Linked DNA regions of Homo sapiens: regions 2, 3, 4 and 5 are each reported to be linked to region 1. The links are microRNA targets in miRTarBase. Many come from high-throughput screens and were not tested one by one. Region 1 holds a microRNA gene; each other region holds the end of a gene's coding sequence. Distances are between the middles of the regions.

Region 1 (4,412 bases):
TTTGTTGTTACACTGTCCATACTGAGATCAGCAGAGAGCTAAGTAATACACAAGATTACGCTTCGGCAGTGCAAAGGATGGCATCAACCAAACTTCATTAAACAGACCAACAAGTACAAACATGGTGAGCAAAGTTCAACTCAGGTAATAGTGATTAAAAACAAAACATGTAGTGGGTCACAACCAGACTGGTTTTCACTGTGCAACTTTCCTCAGGGAATAATACCCATTCACAGAAAGAAAGGAATATGCATCCAAGCCTTTGTTCATAAAGAAAATGCCCTTCAAACAAATTCATCATAAGGCTAAAAAAAAAAAAAAAGAAAGAAAAAAGGATGAAGCAGTTTGGCCCAGAGAAAAGCTTAAATATAATGTGTATACATACTTATAGATATGTTGCCATTTAAACCATGGATATAGACATTTGACAATTAAATGAATTGGCTCAGTAAAGTGAAAAAGTGTTTTCTATAAATATGTAGTTATTGCTGATATGCTACACATTATGCTTTGACATGGAGACTGTAGTAACTCAGAATTTAAAGCTGCCATATTGCCAGTGTTAGCCCTGCAGTAGGCATTCCTGTGGACAACATGCCATCCAATCCTGAAGAAAAAGCAAAACACCACTACTTAACAAAGAAAAGGCTTATGCACTGTCCCTTACATTTTTGTTTTTTTTTTTTAAAAAAACAAAACAAAACAGAATCAAGTCCAGTTCACCACAAGTTAAGCACAACCTGGCGAGCAAGTTTAGCGGCATGATGGGGAGAAAACAGTGAGGTACAGCATGCATTTACAACCAGCGCTGATCTAGTCTATTTTGTCATATAAACTTGAATACAAAAATCCAATTTAAATAAGACTAGACTTACTATAATAGTAAACAAACAAAAACAAAAAACAAAAAAAAAAAACACACACAGTAGACTTAGTTTGATACTGATTAATTTTAAGAGTAAACTCATCCTGTCCCCTCTTAATACTCTACTGCAATTTATTGATGGCTAGAATATTTACTGACTTAAAAAAGGTATTAAATACTTGTATCATGAAATTACATTCTTATTAACAATAAGACATACTGTGTAAGAAAATAGCTCATGTGTGAAATGTGTCTGAAATGCATTTTTTCCTTACAACTATCAAAACATCCACTCACACTAAAATGAAACCACTCCCAACCCCCCCTGAAAAAATGTTAAGGGAAGACGGGGTGGGCTGGGGGAGGAGCAAGGAAGGAAAAGATTTAGCTATACTAATTACAGCACAGTGATTAACAATGGTTCAAGACAGAACCAACAAGAGTTGGTCAAAAAGATGCCTTCAATACATGGCTACAATTAAAAACCAAACTCAGCCGCTTTTGGTTCATTGCAGTGAGACCAAAAAAATTATCTCTCACAGATTCATATAAATACTAGACTCCAGCTCTTATATCATTTTTTTTTAAGTTTTTCTGTTTGTTTCTGCAAGGCCTAGCTATCTTATTACAATTTATATTTGCTCTGCAACAACTACAAGAGGTAGGCATAAAGCATGAAAAAGTTTCTCAGTTAGTACCTCGCCATGTGTTGTTCACTGCACAAAACCATTCACTTTGGACATGAATAGTCATTCCTTCTATTATCTTCTAAACTCTAAAGCAAAGCTGCTGCCACCCGTAAATGTTCTAAAAGAGTGTACTCACAAGTAAGAAACTTTCTCTACTGAAGGATACTGTCACAGAGTTTGTTGCAGAGCATCTATATATATATTTATTTATTTATTTTAAAAAAATAAACAACAATGATGAACGAACCCAGGTTCCTAGAACCAATTCTCTTGATTCTCTACTTCCACAAAATAAAGTGTATCATTTGGCCAAGACTACAGATGTGTTTTTTTTTTTTTTCACAGATGCAAGTGCCATGCAAAAATAAATTAAAGAACAGATACCAAAACATACATGTGATAAAACTACAGAAGGTAGATTTTTAAAAGCATTTATATAAACATAATTTATAATACTTCTCTTTTTTCCTTTATATACAGTCACAAAGCTGTAGTTATACATCTAGGATTTCCTCTGCTGTACCCCCACAGCGTAATCTGTAGCGACCAGTTCTCCAGCTTATAGTTGGGTCCCATAATGCAGACAAAAAAATGTATATTGTCATGGATTCGCGGATGAACCAGGCGACTGCATAATCAAGTTTTGAAAAACACAGTGTGCCACCCTAGGAATGGAAAAAAAAATTTTTTAATTTCACTCACTGTCAAACTAAAGACAAGGTTAAAAAATTAAATTCTTGGATTTCACTTTTCTAAGTATACTATGTAAAATCAAGTCTGCTTCCTTATGTAATTTAACTGCCATGTTATACCGTTCAAGAAAATGCTAATTGTTAATGAAGCATTAAAATAACTGCTATCTTAATGTCTTATTAGTTTCAATACTCACTGATTTAATTAACTTCATGTTTTTGGAAACTTAATAAAAGCGATTATATAACCAATAGAAAGTTGCAAATCGACTTAAGTTTTGCATCAACATTCCACTAGAGAAAGTCATGTTCAAACCCGAGACTAACCTACAATGGGAAGCTGAAGAATGGCTCAGATACATTTCCTTCAACTTTTTCTAAATTGAAATAGTTCTAGTTCCACCAAGGGACTGCCAACCTTTTCATGCCTATCCACATACCTGGACACCCCTGAGTTGAATGTAGTCAAATATAAACCATGCCAGGCAATGACACATGAAAAATACCATAATATCCCATCTGAACACATGGTGGGCTGCCCATCCAATAATTAAACTGGCAACAAAGCATTCTGAAATTGGCTCACAAATTATTGTAGCAGGAAGCATGTTAATTCGTAGTTTGGTCCACCTGGAAAAACAAAAAGGATTTTCTTTAAAACAATATCCTGGCTACAAGACAAATCCTTTTTTTTTTCCCTCAAATAATCAATTTTTTTACCCTGTGATAGAAAGACCATTCTCTTTAAACTTTTTTTGTTTTGTTTTTTTTTTTTTACTTGAGACGGGGTTCTGCTCTGTCACCCAGGCTGGAGTGCAGTGGCACTCACTGTAGCTTCAATCTCCCAGGCTCAAGCGATCTTCCCACCTCATCCCACCAAGTAGCTGGGACCACAGGTGTACACGCCACCACACCTGGCTAATTTTTGCATTTTTTGTAGAGACAGGGTTTCACCATTTTGCCCAGGCTGGTCTCAAACTCCTGGGCTCAAGCAGTCCTCTCGCCTTGGCCTCCCAAAGCGCTGGGATTACAGGTGTGAGCCACCACACACAACCTAAAAATTTTTTTTAATGACTCTCTTTTCTATTTTTGTCTAGGATGTCAAAGAAAAATGTCTTTAAATTCATTTGTATGGCCTACGCTCTGATGAATACAGATAATAAAATTTAATCAGCACAGAAAGTTAGAAAATAAAGATCAGCATATTAAAAAATTCAGTCTCAACATTTCTCTAATGAGTGCTTTCAGTGTTATACAGCAAATAAAATACATTTAGACATTAAATTTATCTTAAACACAGACGTTAAACTCTATTTTCTGCAACTAAACAAAAATCTTCAACCTTTAGGTACATTCATTTAACTACATTAAACCTGTAAAAATTACCACCCCCCTCCCCACTTTCCTTTTAACGAAGTATAAAAAGAAAACAGTTGATTTACCTGATCATTCTGGATTGAAACTGAGAAATTGAATATGAGCCAGAGTTTTGCATTGCAACTTGAGTGGACATTGCAAACCTCCAACCTCTGAAAATTAAGATAATTAGAAAATAAGTTATGATGATGAACACATGCAAGCGTAACTGGTTATGCATTCAGTAATCATTATAAAGACCAGGCAACTGCCGGTATTCAGGGTGAGCCCAGCTTTCATGATTAGCACATGACTTAAGGTCTACCATACGTATGGATGTTTTAGCAATTATGCTGGCCCGTGACAGCACCATCTAAGAACTAGAAGAAACTGTACCCACCTTACTTTACAATTTAAGAAACTTAAAATGCAGTCATTTTGAAAAAAAATGGAGAGGGCTCCATATTTAATAGATTAGTCTCTGATGACTACTAACCAAACAACAAGACATGTAAACAGAAAGTGGCATTATGGATCTCATGGGAGACACTAGGAAACCATGAACCACATGAACACAATCATGACAGAATTTGTATTTAAAACACACTTCAGTTTTTAAAAAATTTAAAAGAATTCTCACACAAGGCAGTGATCTCCTTTAAAAACAAGTATTTTAGGCTGGATGCAGTGGCTCATGCCTGTAATCCCAGCACTTTGGGAGGCTGAGGCGGGCGGATCACGAGGTCAGGAGTTCAAGACTAGCCTGGCCAACATGGTGAAACCCCGCCTCTACTAACATACAAAAAAAAG
Region 2 (4,000 bases), not on the chromosome of region 1:
GAGGCAGGAGAATTGCTTGAAACCTGGGAGGTGGAGGTTGCAGTGAACCAAGATCGTGCCATTGCACTCCAGCCTGGGCAACAAGAGCAAAACTACATCTCACAAAAAATAAAAAAATAAGTGGCATAGATGTGTATAGGACTTTGAATTTTTCTTGGGGACTGACATTCTAGGGGCAGTGGCGAGTCTAAACTTACTATTGAGTACAATGTCCATGCCTGCATGTACTTTTGGGGTGAGAATCCTCAGGTTCTCAAGGACTCCCCAACTCCAAGAACCACTGTGGTAGAAACAGATGACTACAACCTGAGAACTTTCACAGAAGCAAATTCTTGCCTCCTTGCCTCCCCTCTCTCCCCTGCAGGGATTGGAGTTTGGAATCCTGCCTTCGATGTCACCCCCCACGACCTCATCACTGGTGGCATCATCACAGAACTGGGGGTCTTTGCCCCTGAGGAGCTCCGGACAGCCCTAACCACCACCATCTCTTCCAGGGATGGAACCCTAGATGGACCCCAGATGTAACCAACTCAGCTCTCCCTAGCCTGCCTCTCTAGGTTTTTCAATACATTTCTTGAATGGCTACCCAAAAGCTGACCGTCCAGCCCCTGACCACACTTGTTCCTAGTGCAGGGAGCTCAGACAGGGCCTTCCATCTAGAGCCCAGCACCTAGAGCCAGGCTGCCCAGATTCAAATCCTGACTCCGCCACTTTTCCCACTGTATGATCTTGGGCAAGTCACTTCACCTCTCTGTGCCTTGGTTTCCTCATTTATAAAATGTGGATAACAGGCCGGGCGCAGTGGCTCACACCTGTAATCCCAGCACTTTGGGAGGCCGAGGCAGGTGGATCACAAGATCAGGAGATTGAGACCATCCTGGCTAACATGGTGAAACCCCATCTCTACTAAAAATACAAAAAATTAGCCGGGTGTGGTGGTGGGCACCTGCAGTCCCAGCTACTTGGGAGGCTGAGGCAGGAGAATGGCGTGAAACTGGGAGGCAGAGCTTGCAGTGAGCCGAGATAGCGCCACTGCACTCCAGCCTGGGCAACAGAGCGAGACTCCGTCTCAAAAATAAATATAATTAATTAATTATTTAATTAAAAAAATAAAAAATAAATGTGGATAATACTAGTACCTCCCTCTTAAGGTCAGGGCTGGAGCTAGGGTGACATCTCCAGGGCAGAATTTTAAGAGGACACCAAAAAAGCTCAGCAACCAAGATAAAAAATATTTTAAAGCAATATTTTGTTTTGGGTTTTTTTTTTTTGAGATCAAGTATCACTCGTTACCCAGGCTGGAATGTAGAGGCGAGATCTCAGCTCACTGAAACCTGTGCCTCCCCGGTTCAAGCGATTCTCCTGCCACAGCCTCCTGAGTAGCTGGGATTACAGGCATGCGCCACCATGCCCAGCTAATTTTTCTATTTTTAGTAGAGACATGATTTCACCATGTTGGCCAGGCTGGTCTCGAACTCCTGACTCAAATGATCCCCCTGCCTCAGCCTCCCAAAGTGCTGGGACTACAGGCATGAGCCACTGTGCCTGACCTTACAGCAGTATTTTTTAAAAATCAAAATTAATGCAAAAATCCATGATGAGGCCAGGCTTGGTGGCTCATGCCTGTAATTCCAGCACTTTGGGAGGATCCCTTGAGCCCAGGTGTTTGAGACCAGTTTGGGTAACATAGGAAGAGCTTGTCTCTACAAACAAAAATTTAAAAACAATGAGCTGGGCATGGAACTCACACCTCTAGCCCCAGCTACTCAGGCTGAAGTGGGAGGATGGCTTGAGCCCAGGAGTTCAAGGATGCAGTGTGCTTTGATTGCACTACTGCACTTCACCCTAAGCAACAGAGTGAGACCCCATCTCTTTAAAAAAAAAAAAAAATCCATGATGAACAAAACAAGTATTTGTTTGAGACGGGGTCTCGCTCTGTCGCCCAGGCTGGAGTACAGTGGTGCCATCTCAGCTCACTGCAACCTCCGCCTTCTGGGTTCAAGCGACTCTCCTGCCTCAGCCTCCCGAGTAGCTGGGATTACAGGAGCCTGGCACTATGCCTGGCTAATTTTTGTATTTTTATTGGAGACACCATGTTAGTCGTGGCTGGTCTCCAACTCCTGACCTCGGGTGATCCGCGCCCCGCGGCCTCCGAAAGTGCTGGGATTACAAGCGTGAGCCACCGTGCCCGGCCTAAATAAAATTTTGAAGAGGCTAGAACCCCGCACTTGTGCCTTGAGCTTACTGACCTCAACACCCTGGTTCCACTAAAACTTTATTTACAAAATTATGCTGCCGGTCTGCAGGATGTAGTTTAACAATTTGATTATTTTGGATATTAAAATATTTTTTAAGTCTTGAAAATATTGTTTACTATTACCAAAGTTTTTGAACCTTCTTAAATTCTGTACCAGAGGTGAGTGCCACACCCTAACCTAGTCTGAGTTTTTATGTGTAAAGATCATAAAACGTTGTAAGTTTTCTAAAACACATAAGCTCTCAATAAACGTTAGCTTATCATTGTCACCGTTTTGTTCGTAATGTTTGAAAACTCCAACTGTGATCCACTACACTACCCTTGTGGGATGCTGTCTCTTTAACTCTGTGCCACGTTGTATCCCGTGAGTTCTTGCGTTTTTCCGCCCCGCTGTATCCCATGGTTCCCTGTGCCTTCCGGCTACGACTGCTCACAGTCCCGCCTCTTCCGCTGCGTGCCGGACCATGGCGCAGGGGCAGCGCAAGTTTCAGGCGCACAAACCCGCAAAGAGTAAGACGGCAGCGGCAGCCTCTGAAAAGAATCGGGGCCCAAGAAAAGGCGGTAAGGAGCGGCCCGGGGACTTGGGGGCGAGGTGGACCCCCGGCTTCCCGGCCTCACGTGAGCACATCTTTCCCCAGGTCGTGTTATCGCTCCCAAGAAGGCGCGCGTCGTGCAGCAGCAAAAGCTCAAGAAGGTGTGCGGGGGCGAGAGATGGAGCCCGGAGGGCGGCGAGTAGCGAGGGGTGGAACCCGGAGGACGGCGAGGGGGGATGGGTGGAGCCCGGGGATCAGTGAGGGGAGAGGGTGGATCCTGGGGACGAGCTAGGAGCGAGGGGATAGAGCCAGGGGCCGCGTTAGGAGCGAAGGATGGAGCCCGGGGCGCAGAGAGGGGTAAGAGGTGGAAGCTGGCGAGGGATAGGGGCTGGGGGACGTGCTAGGGACGAGAGATGAAATCTGGAGGCCGGCGAGGGAAGGAGCACAGGGATCGGCAAAGGGCAAGGGATGAGGCCTGGAGGACTCCCAGCTCTGTGGGCCTCCCTTTTCTTCCTTGTGCAAGGGGTGCAGGAACACCACTTACCACTTCAAAAGGGCCTCGTAGAAGCAAGACCTGCGGCCCAAAAAGGGTTCCAATAACGTCAGCCTCTTGCTGTTACTGTTTTCTTTAATTGAACTCAGGAAGACAGCGAGGTGACATGGGAAGGGAATTGAAAGCCCAGCTTTGTAAACCTAGAACAGCAGAGGGCTCAAAGAAGTGTGAGGGTGCGTTGGTTATCGTCATTTTTTTTTGAGTCAGGGTCTCACTGTTGCCCAGGCTGGAGTGCAGTGGCCCCATTATAGCTCACTGCAGCCTCAGCCTCCTGGACTTAGGCAATCTTTCCGTCTCAGCCTCTCGAGTAGGTAGAATTGCAGGTGCTCGCCAATACGCGGCTAATTTTATTTTTTTTGTATTTTTGGTAGAGACAGGTTTCACTATGCTGCTCGGGCTGGTCTTGAACTCCTGGCCTCAAGGCATCCTCCCGCCTCTGCCTCCCAAAATGCTGGGATTACAGGCGTGAGCCACCCTATGGTTGTTTTTAAGTGCAACATTTATATGTAGATGGGTAAGGTTGAGCTTGTAAAGAAGTTGGAAGGAGATTTAAAACTGGTTTTGGTGGGAGTCAAACCTGGGTTTGAATTGTACTCCACAGTAAACAGCCCTGTGATCTTGAGCAAATTGTTTCGTCACCCCAGAGTGTCGGTTTTC
Region 3 (4,000 bases), not on the chromosome of region 1:
AGCAAGATGTTTGTCTGCGGGGGCTACGATGGCTCTGGCTTCCTCAGCATTGCCGAGATGTACAGCTCTGTGGCAGACCAGTGGTGCCTGATTGTCCCCATGCACACGCGCAGGAGCCGGGTCTCCCTGGTGGCCAGCTGTGGGCGCCTCTACGCTGTTGGGGGCTACGACGGACAGTCAAACCTAAGCTCAGTGGAGATGTATGACCCAGAGACAGACTGCTGGACATTCATGGCCCCCATGGCGTGCCATGAGGGAGGGGTCGGTGTGGGCTGCATCCCTCTCCTCACCATCTAAGGCAGAGGATGGGATGTGGTGGGGCAGGGATCTGGTACAGACATAGGCGCTTCCTTCCAGGAACAGTCCCTCAGGAGAGGCAGTGGACCAGAAGAGATGGCGAAACGTGAGCTCGCCGGAGGTACAGTTTTTCCAGGTGCTTAAGCCCTCCCCCACTGTGCCACCCTTGTGACCTTCAGGCTTGGGTCATCAAGATGCACAGCATGGAACACAAGCTCCTCTGGATCCTGCAGCTGGTGACATGGAACTGTTTTCTGGTCCACATGAACACAGGCTCCATCCAGGCCCAGCTCCTACCCACCGCCTCTCTGTGGGCCAGCTGTTCACAGAAGGCCTTCCATCTGATGCTCCCCATCGCCTGCTTGCTCTCCAGCCGAGTCTGGCCAATTTGCCATGGGGAGGCTGCAGTGTCCAAGCCTGCTGGAAACTGGGATGTAGCTGGGGACGAAAGGACAGACCCAAGCGTTCTCCCTGCCTGAGATGGTGTGGCCACAGCAGTGGAAGGCTGCACACAGGCACATTCCTTCTTCCACAGTGGGGCACCAAGGATTCTGTCCTCATTGCTGGGTAAGCAGGGAGAAGAGAAGTTTTCCCCATGTCTAATTTTGGGATTTCAGTGAGGCCTTTTGATCTGTCCAGGAGAACAGAAGGGAAAAAAAGATACTTGAAAGAAACTGAAGGAAATTTAAACAAAGAAACACTTGAAAGAAACTGGAAAGAAAAATAATTTTTTTATGTGAACAAATTTTGCAAGAAGAAAAAAGCATAAAAGACACTAACGGCAAATCTATGTTTAAATGGAAAATCGTCTAACTGGAGAAGGGCGGTATCCACCCCACATTCGGATCCCAGGGTCCTGAGGCCTCGCATTGAGCTGGGGGTTCCCTCTGAGCCCCAGTGTGTGTGGAATCAGTGCACTCTTGACTGGGCCTGTAGTAAGGTGCTCATGGGGTTTGTCTTCTCACCCACCATCAGAGGACTTTTAAAATCATAGGCGTAGAGAGTTAGGCTATCTGCTGAATTACTGCCACTCTTCTTGGTGGGGGCTCCTAGCTGTGGCTGGGGGCTCCAGGCGCCCCTGTGATTACCTCCTACTGCCACCATGGCGCTCATTCAGATTCCCCACTCTCACTAACATTGCTTCCTTTTTTGACCAGCAGGAAACAGCAGGTCTGGCCAGATTCTCACTTGCCCATCAATCTCGTTCTTGGATGATTTCCCTCATTGTGATGCTTCTGGGGCACGTTGACCATATGCACCTCTAGAACCTAACCAGGGCTTCCTTCTACCAGCTGTGGGCGGGCTTGGTCTGGTAACCTTGTCTGCTCTGCCATTCCACTGCTCCTCCATCCACTCGCCAATCCCAAGAGTCTGGCCTCCCTCCAGCCCTGGGCAGACTGACCAGCAAGGTGGACCTTTACATTCAAGCACAGCTGGCTTTTATGACATAAAGAACTAAAGGCCGAAAGAATCTCTTGCTGCTGCAAAGAACAGATTTTATATTTCTTCCTCTAATCTTGGCAAATGACCTTTACCTTTTGGAAAGATTTCATATTGCTTCCTCCTCCCTGGATAGGACCTAATGTAGCACAGCGGGACTCAAAGAGGAGGACATTTTCTCTTGCCAGTGCACTGGGCAGTGGGGCTGTCCTTCAACTGCTGCTGCCAAAATTGGTTTTCTAAAATTCTTCCAGTAGAGACTAAAAGAAGATTCAATTCCTGTAACCCAAGACTGAGTCTTAGGGCTCCAGTCTCCACCTGCTTGGTTTCCTATCCTTTGCTGCCTGCCTGGGGTGGCCTGGAAGCCTGTTCAGAAAGGCACAATGTGGAGCCTGGGGTGTCTCCCCCACCCCAGGACCGTCAGGTTTACCAGTGTGTGCAATCGCCATGTATTCAGAGGGAAGTACCTTTGTTACCTACAACTTAGGAGCTAGGCCTCTGCTACAAGCACTTGAAAATGATATTTTTATTTTTAACGTCTCAACAATCTGATATCGGATGTCGTTTAACCTGGGCTCGTGGTAGGGCTCCAGCATTTCTCCCTCCTTCCTGGTTTGCCTGTAGGGGTAGACTCGGAAGGTGGGTGGGGTGTGCATTTCCTGTTAGGAGTGTATCAGTGCTTGTCTTATTATAAGCCCCTTTCTTTTGTGAATTTGAAGTAGCACCAACAAGCCTGGATTGTGAAGGTATTAAGAATCGGTCTGTGGGCTACTGAGTGGGTCCTTAGGATACTGGCCCAGATTTTGCCACTGGGTATGGCAGATCATTTTCTACCATGGCCTGCTGCTCTTGTAGTGGACTTCCTGAGTCCAATCCCACCTCCTGGTGTAGAATTTACACTGCTGCACCTGAGGTCGATGTTTCAAAGTAAGATCAAGCCAGTGTTTTGATCTGGGCTCTGAGCACAAGTCAGGAAACACCAACATATTCACACTCTCCCAGTAGGTTCCTCAGTCCGATGGTGAATGGCTATTCGTAAATGGCTGGTCTGGCTCTTTGGTGTTGGAGCCTTTCCAATAGCCCCATGAAAAGAAGCATCACCCAAGGATATTGTAAAAAGGATGTAACAAGGAGATAGGGTAGACATTGTACTCAGTGGGCCTTGGGGCCTAGCCCAGCTCTGAGCAGAGGACTGTGGCATTCACTGTCCTTGAGTGTTTCACCTTCTTGGATAACACACGGGCCTTCTCTTCTGGATTTCATCAGAGATTACAGCCAGATGGGGGCTGAAGACCATCCTCTTGACCACAGAGGTGTGACTGTGGGAATTCCTCCCAATTTATGGTTTCCCAGAAAATCTTAGTTCCTTTTATTTATAGAATGCATGTCTTTTGTGTTAAGAAACCAAAGAGAAATAAAGAGAACACTCCTAATAGCTCTTGTCCTTTCTTGGTTTATTTCTCAGATATTAGAAGTACATGTTTGTTTTTTAATTGTGATTCACTGAAAAAAATATATTGGACAAAATGGGAATATTTCTGTGAATATAAGGGAAAAGCCAGATGTACAGCAAAAGTAGTCTTTGGAGAGATTTATTTTATGAGAGTCACTTCTGGTGAAAAATATGCAAAGACTTCATTTGCACTTTGGGACTGCATATTGGTGCCTGTCCTGATCGCCCCTACTCTCGGATTTCCCCTTTTCTCCATTCACTGCCCTAAAACTCCAGAGTTTCCCAGTGGAATGTGGCTGCCTGTTGACTGCCTGGAATCAGCATCTCCAGCTCCTTTTTTATGCTCTAGGCGAGAGGTGCTTTAACTTTGGTGCACATAAAAGTCACTGGAAAATGTTTAAACCACAGATCCGTTCCTAAGTCCCTCTCTAGAGACAGGTTCCCTAGGGCTGGGGTGCAGCTCAGCATTCTGGCGTGAGCAAGTTTCCTTGGTGATTTGCATGCTCTTCAGTGTGAGAACTATACTCCCATCTTCAGTTTCACTTCCCCAAATACAGCCGCATTCCAGATCTGCTCTTCCAAGATTACACTGTGGTTAGTGTGGTTTTGCCTGTTGGGAAACTCTTCAGTCACACTTTTCCAAAAGTCAGCTTGTGATCAATCTTGTCCATTGGACTCCTGGATGGCAACTTAATTTTTTTAAGTTTTTGGAAGGCATATCACTCCCACACACACCCCACCAGGACATGTCTTACATATAAACACTCTTATCAGTTGAATCTCACATGGTCCTCAGTAATCCCCACGGAG
Region 4 (4,000 bases), 19 Mb from region 1:
CATTGTTTGGAGGATACAAATAGATGAAGATGGGAAGGTTTTTCCAAAGCTGGATCTTCTCACCAAAGTCCCACAGCGAGGTAGGGCCCTGGGTGTGGCTGCTCTAGGTGACTTCTCAACATGCCCAGCAAAGCCGCCTGCCTGTTTCCTCTGGGTTTCAAAGGGCAAGAATCAAAAATTGGAAATCTCATTAATGTACTTTGTCTATCAATTTTTAAATATTTTTATCAATAATCACTCAAAAAGAACATGAAAAGGGATTGCTGCCCCAAGGCCCTCCCAGGCTGAATGCACAGGGAATATGCCTCCAGCCGTAGGTGAGGCCTCCACTCACTCCATCTCCTCGCCCGCCACTAGCATGTCCCATCCCATGCAGCTAGTCGGGAGGAGTGCGGGGTCTTGGTGAGGTCCATGCCAGCAGAAAACAAAAGACCAAAAGCTGCCACCTTGAAGTTTCTTACCCGGTTTAATGTTTTCTTTATAGCCCTGGAGCTGGACAAGAACAGAGCCATAGAAACTGCTCCTCTCAGCTTCCGAACCCTGGTAGGACTGCTTGGAATCGAAGCTGCTCTGGAAAGCCTGATAAAATCGCTTTGTGCAGAGGAGAACAACTAGTTCCAAAACAGTGAACGTGGAGGATGAAGATGCTGCGTGGAGGAACATGCAATTTTATTCAATATAAACATTTGCTATTTTCTGCTTAGAAACCACACCCTGAAGACGTGCTGTCTATGCAGTTATGGCACATTATATGGAAACTCTCATGACATGAAAAATAAATACAACTAGTTAAGTATAAAATGCCAAATAAAAGTGACACGTACAATGTGGTTTATAAAAATAAGCTTAACATCTGAGAAAATGTACCAAGTGGTTGTGTGTCCTCAGATGTGTGGGGAGGATCCATCCCCCACCCACTGCAGCCTCACACCGAGTCCACCTTGGACATGGTGGCCACATTACTCAGCTGGGAGAAGCCACCCTTATCCTGGTTCCTGCCTCCTGGGGGCTCTGGAGACGGATGCCTATGGCGCCTCATCTTTAAACTGTCCTTAGTAGCCCAGGGGAGCCACACCCTCACTCCCTGCCTCCCCCCGGTCCGCATGGTGGCACCGTGAGGCAGTCTCAGCAAGTCCTCATGCTGTTCTTGGTCTTCCACAAGAAAGTGAAGCTGTCAGCTTAATAACAAGAATGGCCTAAGACAGCAAAGACAGCACTGTTCCTGGGCTGGGACGCAAGGAATGAGGTCCTTTATGAAAGAAAGACCCCCCTGCATAGCCTAAGTGCTATATCGATCGTCCCGGATGTGCCTTAAGAACCGTGACCTCATCAGTCGCCCATTTAGCATTGTTAAGATCTGTGAACGCGTGTTGTCTCAAACCAGTCAGGGCCGTCATGACTACGCAGCAGCAGCAGTTTCCAAGACGGGCCAGAAACGCATCCACAGCAGTGGCACCCGCGGCTCAGGGGCTCCTCACAGCCCGGGCTGGTGGGAGCCAAGACCAGACAGAGTGGGGGTCTCCATCTGTTTTCTCTTCTCCCTCAAATACAGGCTGTTTTCATCGTGTCTAGTCCAGCCCTGTCTGGGCCCTGTGCTAGGCAATAACTCTTGCAGCCCTGAAGGACCTAGGGAGCCCAGCCCACCTTCCCACGGACTGGGGTTCCCTCACATGTGCACTTGAACCCAGGACCCAGCATCCTCCACACACCGTGACAATGGGCAAAATCATCCCAAACCAGGCTGCCCCAGCCCCAGCCCAGCAACAGTGAACTCCCTTGGGTCAAGACAGTACTCAACGGCCACTACCTCCACGCTTCCCAGAGCCTGCGGCTTGTCCGTGAGCTCCGTGCACTTCACCAAAGCCCCCATCCCAGCACACAGGACCCGTGTGTATGAGACGGTGTCATTGGAAGTGAGAAGAAAACAGTAAAAGTGTCCAGTTAGATAAGTATCTTTTTGCACCTCTGAGAGTAGAATTAGAAGTAAATATGACAGAATTGAACAATAAATTCTAGAAGAGTTGCCTTGATTCAAACAAGTATAATTCTCAAGTTATCACAAAATTTCCCACAAAAATTTACAATCAGCAAAATAGTTTCCTTATTTCTCATGTATCATTTTCATATAATTCCATGGTTTCACTAATATTATATGTTACAATAAGCCTCCATTAGTCCCTCAAAACGATGATATAAATAAGTCTGTACAACCTAGCATAGAATAAAAAACTGAAACCAAGATTCCCAACGTTTTTCATAGCAGCCGGGCACACTTTGGTGACCCCAACGAGAACCCTCTCGGCAGCAGCCAGGAGCTGTTCACCTTCCAGAAGCAGGGCCTGTGGCAGCCTAACAGGGAGAGGCCACGGGGCCCAAAAACGCAACACGTCTCAAGGCAAACCCGAGGGAGGAACTTGGTCTGGGAGGAAGAGAGAACTCGCTCCTCAACCACCCCAGACACTGGAGTGTCAGGAAAGCACTGAGCTGTTGGGGCACACTGCCCAGCCCGGCCACAGCAGCTCAGCCAGTCACAGCTCCACCTCCAACTTCTACAGCAGCAATTTTTAGTGGGAAAGAACAGCTCATCTCCCCCTCATGTGAAAGATTAAATTGTAAAGCAAAAAAAAAAAGGTCAATGCTCGCATGAGTGGTGTCCATCCTGACCTGAGCCTTGCGCTCCCTGCTGCCCTGTGTGGAACTGTGGGCTTCAGCACCTCCACAGGGACCCTGAGTCTACACTGCTCAGAATCGGCATCTGCGCGACCACGAGGTCACGCTGTGCAGCAGGGAACCACCTAAAAACCTGTGTTGATATGTGGCTTGCACTGAAAAAGTGACCATGTAACTCAGCTGGGGGAAGTTCCAGTAGTATCCATGTTTTCTTAAAAGTCCAAACTGTAAAATGTATGTGACAATTCAAGTTTTCTATGTTAGGAGTCTGGTGGTAGCAGATCCAAACCTTGGGTCTTAGAATAAGGCTTTTCGCATTAGAGAATCAGACATGAGCCCTGGTTGGGAAAGAAGAACTATCCAGAACGTCTTCCCAGGGCTTAACGGACACTTCCATTTTAAGAGTGTGAGCAGCTTCCTGGGACACAGCACTCACTTCCTACATTCCTTGTCCAGGAAGTTGTTTCTAGTGCTCTTCAATTCCATGTCTCCAAGAGGCAATCCCACCTCAAAAGGGGTTAAAAGCAAAAACATTCACAACCAAAGGTCACCCAACACAACAGAAAATATCTCTATCATTCAGCCTTCACATTATGTTCAAGTTTCAAAGACACTGCAGGGAAAGAGTTAGACCTTGTGGAGAACTAATGTGCAATCTTCGCTTTCCTTGAACCGAGTCGACATCACGGCGTTGTCTTTGGCACGTACAGTCTTTGAATAATAGTTGACGATCTTGCCGTCCAGTTTATACTGATGGGGAATGCTCTCGTAGGGCTTGAGGTCAAGGTCCAGCACAGACACGGAAAAGGCAAACCTGGACCTCGATGAAGGGACGACAGGCCTTTGATCAGAGCTGCAAGTAAAAAGTACCATTTCAGGATACACAAGCCCCCCATTCATTTCCCTCCCTCCCGTTCTCTCTCCCTTTCTTCTTTCAACTAGTATGTTTTTATGTTTTTTCTTTGACTTCTGCAAAGTTAGATAAATCAATCTCTTTTAAAAGAGAAGTGAATGGCCTCACACCCCAGCTCACAAAGAGCACTCGTTCTGTGCACCTGTGATCTGTGCGTGTGACAGCTGTCTGTGCCGGCTGTGTGCACCAGCGTGCAAAGCTTCCTCAGGCCAGTGCACCCCACCATACCAGGCGAGAGAGGGTTAAAGGACTGAAAGATGGAAAAGTAATTATGTGGAACATGTGAGCGATGTTCCCCCAGCCCAGTGGTATAAACGAACGCTGAAAAATCACTTTATCATGAGCCAAGTATTACAAAACCCAACAAAAAGTAAAAAGTAGATCTGGCCATTCCAGCGCCAAATGGATGGAATGTCG
Region 5 (4,000 bases), not on the chromosome of region 1:
CAATAGTTTAAGAAGCAAAGCATGAATAAGCTCTGTTAGAAACCTGAAATATTAATTCTGAAATATTTATATATATATGAAGCAAATGGTCCTATGCTAGATATAAGCTCCTCATTTTGAAACTAGAGTATCCCAAAGTTTTCTGGACTGAAAATAATTTTAATATCTTTTACTAAGTACTTAGTTTTCTGGGTTTGAGTATGCATGCTTAAGATTATGCTCAAGGGACAGAAAGTGTATGAAAAAAATTTTAAGCATTAGTCCATAAACAATGTATTTTAAGCCTGAAAATCTGCTTATTTAGAGATAGAAAATGATGTGTTCTCTTTTTTTTTTAATGTGGATGAAGAGCAAGCAACTCAGTCCCAAACTACAGTTCTTGTTGTGACCAGTGGAACTGTGAAGTTTGATGGAAACAAACAACATTTCTTCAACCAGAACTTCCTGCTGACTGCTCAGTCCACTCCCAACAATACTGTGTGGAAGATTGCAAGTGATTGCTTCCGTTTTCAAGATTGGTCTAGTAGTTAAAGGGGCAAAAGTCCATTCTCATTTGGTCCATTAGTTCCAGCAATTGAAATTTATGTGAATTATTTTGATTGTAGAAGCACTATAATATGTGCTGAAACTAAATTTCTTTAATATTTTCTATTCCTGTCAGCACCTTTTCTAGCAGCTGCCAGTTTGGAGCATTGCCCTCTAAGAGCTTTAAAACTATTTTTTTACATGCCTTATATACATTCCACTAATGACATTCTTATAATAATATTAAACACATGATCTTGGTACTAACATACTCACTGTGAACCCAGCCTATTGCAAAAATAAAATCTTTTTATAATATTATCTATGGGATGTCAGCACAATATAACACTCTGGGAAGAAGTGGAGTTTTTTGGTTATTAGGTTAATTTTCTAGTAAAACACGTTGCCTGTTTTCAGTTAACACTGGTAATGCCATTTTAATATATGGCTTTTTCAAATCAGTTCAGTGAAAATAGTACAGATTTAGGTTTACATAACTACTCTGACATACTGGAATTGCATATAGAGATGTTCAGTGGTCGTTTTTCATTTTAAGTAATTTTTGTTTTGGCATTTTTTTGTGTGAAGTAAATTAATCAACTAGAGAGGTGCAAAACGTTCTCAGTTGATATCTGAGTATTGGGTGCATTTGGTGGCTTAAAAGCAAAGCTTCCTAAAAAGATTTTTCTTGGCAGCTCCAGGTCTATACATTTAGGTAATGAATGGTAGTAGAACTAATAGCTTTAACAGGAGAATAGGGAATGAGAAATAGAAATCCAAGGCTGAAGCCAAAAGTAAGGAGGGTGGCCAAATGGTAAACTATTGGTACTTGTTTTCTACCTCCTAAAAATGTAGCTTATTTTTAGGATTTAAATCACTAAGTAAATAAGTATCCTTGCCAAGTGATCATGAGTGTCATTTTTGTTCTAAGACTAATATTTTTAGATCTTTTTACTTCACCTCATACTTATCACCAATGTATATCTCCATTTATTCAATAACTTACTGGGGTAAAATAACAGCAATAAACCTAACCTTTTAACAGGGTCTAACATGAGAGTTGGAGTCAAAGCCATTGTTATCTTTTGGTGACACCCTTAAATTTTAAGTCTTCCAGTCTTCCATGTGAACTTTAGGCCCAAAGTTTCTTATGTATCACACATCCCCCAAATAAGTGATTTTTTCCCAGTGCTTTGTACTGTCAACTGCATTATCTTTAATTATTTAAAGGTAGAATTATTTAATTTTGTGATTTGTTCTTCCATATGACATTGAGCAAATAGATCTGTTTCAAAATATGTTCCCGCTATGTGGATAACTCTTCTTTTTAAAAAGAAAATAGAGAATAGCAAATCTTCATGATAATCCTCAAAAGAACAAAATGCTTAACTTTATCTCTTAATTTCTAAAGGTAAATAACCTAGGTTCAGCTTTTGCTTAAACATTAAATATCTTTTCCATTTTTTAATGTTTGTAAGCTAGATATGCCAGCTTTGTTTCTACATTGCAACCAAAAACTGTTTCTTTTCACTTAATTATAAAACCAGTAATTCATTTACTCTTGCCCAAAACTATACACTGTATTTCTGTTATAGTAACAAAATAGAGTTATGTAGAATTGTATGGAACTCAAATTTAAACCATGCTTTCTTGTAGTACTGATTGAAACTTACACGTTTTATTCTACTCATAGTGAGCTTATTCTTATTTTGGATTGATTTTCCAAAACCACAGCTTCAGCAGCAACAATCAGAATGTCCAAATGCTGTCCTTTCCCTTACAGAGAAGAACAATGGTAACTAAAAGCTGCATATAACTAGCAATAACTACATTGAACGGTGTGCATTGTTCATGATTGTTGTGTTTTAAGACTTGTATATAAACTGCTTTTTCCAAACTCTGTATAACTTTTAAATGGCTGGAACTACTCGTATAAGGACTAGACTGTATTTTTGACATGCTCCTATTTTTGTAACTTGAAAAAATAAAATTTTGCCTTGTGACAGATTTTCTCAAGATTGTTTTAAGGTCTTTTGATTTTTGTTCTTAGGTTTCAGAATGGTTACTTGTTTCTTTACAATATAAGGTTTTTTAAATTTAGAAAAAAATTACAGTAGTGTGTTGACAACAATGGTTAACAACTTGGATCTTCTTTTGGTTCTTTCTGTAACCTGCCACATCTGTCTCCTTTTCCTGCCAATTATTCACATTCCTGAGATCATCACTTGTTTGAGATACCTGTAGGTTTTTGGTGAGAAGTTGGAAATCTTAACCTTGAGAAACCAGCTAAAATGCTATATTCGATAGGCAGTGAAACCAAAATACAGTTGATTTCCAGAAAGAATGGTTCATTAAATTTAATTCTACATTAAAAATATGTCAACACTACTGGGTAAATAACGAAATGAAGGCAGAAATAAAGATGTTCTTTGAAACCAATGAGAACAAAGACACAACATACCAGAATCTCTGGGACACATTTGAAGCAGTGTGTAGAGGGAAATTTATAGCACTAAATGCCCACAAGAGAAAGCAGAAAAGATCGAAAATCGACACCCTAACATCACAATTAAAAAAACTAGAGAAGCAAGAGCAAACACATTCAAAAGCTAGCAGAAGGCAAGAAATAACTAACATCAGAGCAGAACTGAAGGAGATAGAGACACACACACACAAAAAAAAACCCTTCAAAAAATCAATGAATCCAGGAGCTGGTTTTTTGAAAAGATCAACAAAATAGATAGAGTACTAGTAAGACTAATAAAGAAGAAACCCCTGTGGGAGGCAATTAATTCAAAGAGAACTACAAACCACTGCTCAACGAAATAAAAGAGGACACAAACAAATGGAAGAACATTCCATGCTCATGGATAGGAAGAATCAATATTGTGAAAATGGCCATACTGCCCAAGGTAATTTATAGATTCAATGCCATCCCCATCAAGCTACCAAGAACTTTCTTCACAGAATTGGAAAACACTGCTTTAAAGTTCATATGGAGCTAAAAAAAGAGCCTGCATTGCCAAGACAATCCTAAGCAAAAAGAATAAAGCTGGAGGCATCATGCTACCTGACTTCAAACTATACTACAAGGCTACAGTAACCAAAACAGCATGGTACTGGTACCAAAACAGAGACATAGACCAATGGAACAGAATAGAGCCCTCAGAAATAATAACACACATCTACAACCATCTGATCTTTGACAAACCTGACAAAAACAAGAAATGGGGAAAGGATTCCCTACTGGTGCTGGGAAAACTGACTAGCCATATGTAGAAAGCTGAAACTGGATCCCTTCCTTACACTTTATACAAAAATTAATTCAAGATGGATTAAAGGCTTAAATGTTAGACCTAAAACCATAAAAACCCTAGAAGAAAACCTAGGCAGTATCATTCAGGACATAGGCATGGGCAAGGACTTCATGACTAAAACACCAAAAGCAGTGGCAACAAAAGCCAAAATACACAAA

The links. The annotated mature microRNA hsa-miR-4668-5p reads AGGGAAAAAAAAAAGGAUUUGUC and lies in region 1 at 2,924-2,946, opposite strand. An mRNA with a match to its seed (bases 2 to 7 or 8) in the 3' UTR can be bound and repressed. Matches are read on the target gene's strand: a 7mer-m8 pairs with bases 2 to 8, a 7mer-A1 pairs with bases 2 to 7 and ends in A, and an 8mer does both.
Region 2: the mRNA of MRI1 is a reported target of hsa-miR-4668-5p. Seed matches in the 3' UTR shown: 8mer at 712-719.
Region 3: the mRNA of KLHL18 is a reported target of hsa-miR-4668-5p. Seed matches in the 3' UTR shown: 7mer-m8 at 885-891 and 7mer-A1 at 3,083-3,089.
Region 4: the mRNA of IPPK is a reported target of hsa-miR-4668-5p. Seed matches in the 3' UTR shown: 7mer-A1 at 3,014-3,020 and 7mer-A1 at 2,569-2,575.
Region 5: miRTarBase lists NXT2 as a target of hsa-miR-4668-5p. Seed matches in the 3' UTR shown: 8mer at 1,706-1,713.

Annotation. Positions count from the first base shown.
Region 1 is chr9:111,930,634-111,935,045 of GRCh38, reverse strand. MIR4668 (microRNA 4668) reads right to left here and starts at 2,946; the gene lies at 2,877-2,946. It overlaps UGCG (UDP-glucose ceramide glucosyltransferase), which reads right to left. Exons shown (of 9, transcript NM_003358.3): 7 at 3,689-3,775; 8 at 2,687-2,876; 9 at 1-2,219. The coding sequence ends at 2,049.
Region 2 is chr19:13,771,757-13,775,756 of GRCh38, forward strand. It overlaps MRI1 (methylthioribose-1-phosphate isomerase 1), which reads left to right. Exons shown (of 6, transcript NM_001031727.4): 6 at 365-2,526. The coding sequence ends at 525. It overlaps C19orf53 (chromosome 19 open reading frame 53), which reads left to right and starts at 2,700. Exons shown (of 3, transcript NM_014047.3): 1 at 2,700-2,818; 2 at 2,896-2,951. The coding sequence starts at 2,722. RefSeq lists enhancers at 2,391-2,460, 2,531-2,730, 2,707-3,236, 3,237-3,765.
Region 3 is chr3:47,343,645-47,347,644 of GRCh38, forward strand. It overlaps KLHL18 (kelch like family member 18), which reads left to right. Exons shown (of 10, transcript NM_025010.5): 10 at 1-3,172. The coding sequence ends at 297. Among named protein-coding and RNA genes, the nearest start is that of PTPN23, 35 kb to the right of the region's middle.
Region 4 is chr9:92,612,535-92,616,534 of GRCh38, forward strand. IPPK (inositol-pentakisphosphate 2-kinase) reads right to left here. Exons shown (of 13, transcript NM_022755.6): 13 at 649-3,523. The coding sequence ends at 3,298. CENPP (centromere protein P) reads left to right here. Exons shown (of 8, transcript NM_001012267.3): 7 at 1-80; 8 at 485-4,000. The coding sequence ends at 615. Among named protein-coding and RNA genes, the nearest start is that of IPPK, 56 kb to the right of the region's middle.
Region 5 is chrX:109,542,158-109,546,157 of GRCh38, forward strand. NXT2 (nuclear transport factor 2 like export factor 2) reads left to right here. Exons shown (of 4, transcript NM_001242617.2): 4 at 350-2,541. The coding sequence ends at 531. Among named protein-coding and RNA genes, the nearest start is that of NXT2, 7.3 kb to the left of the region's middle.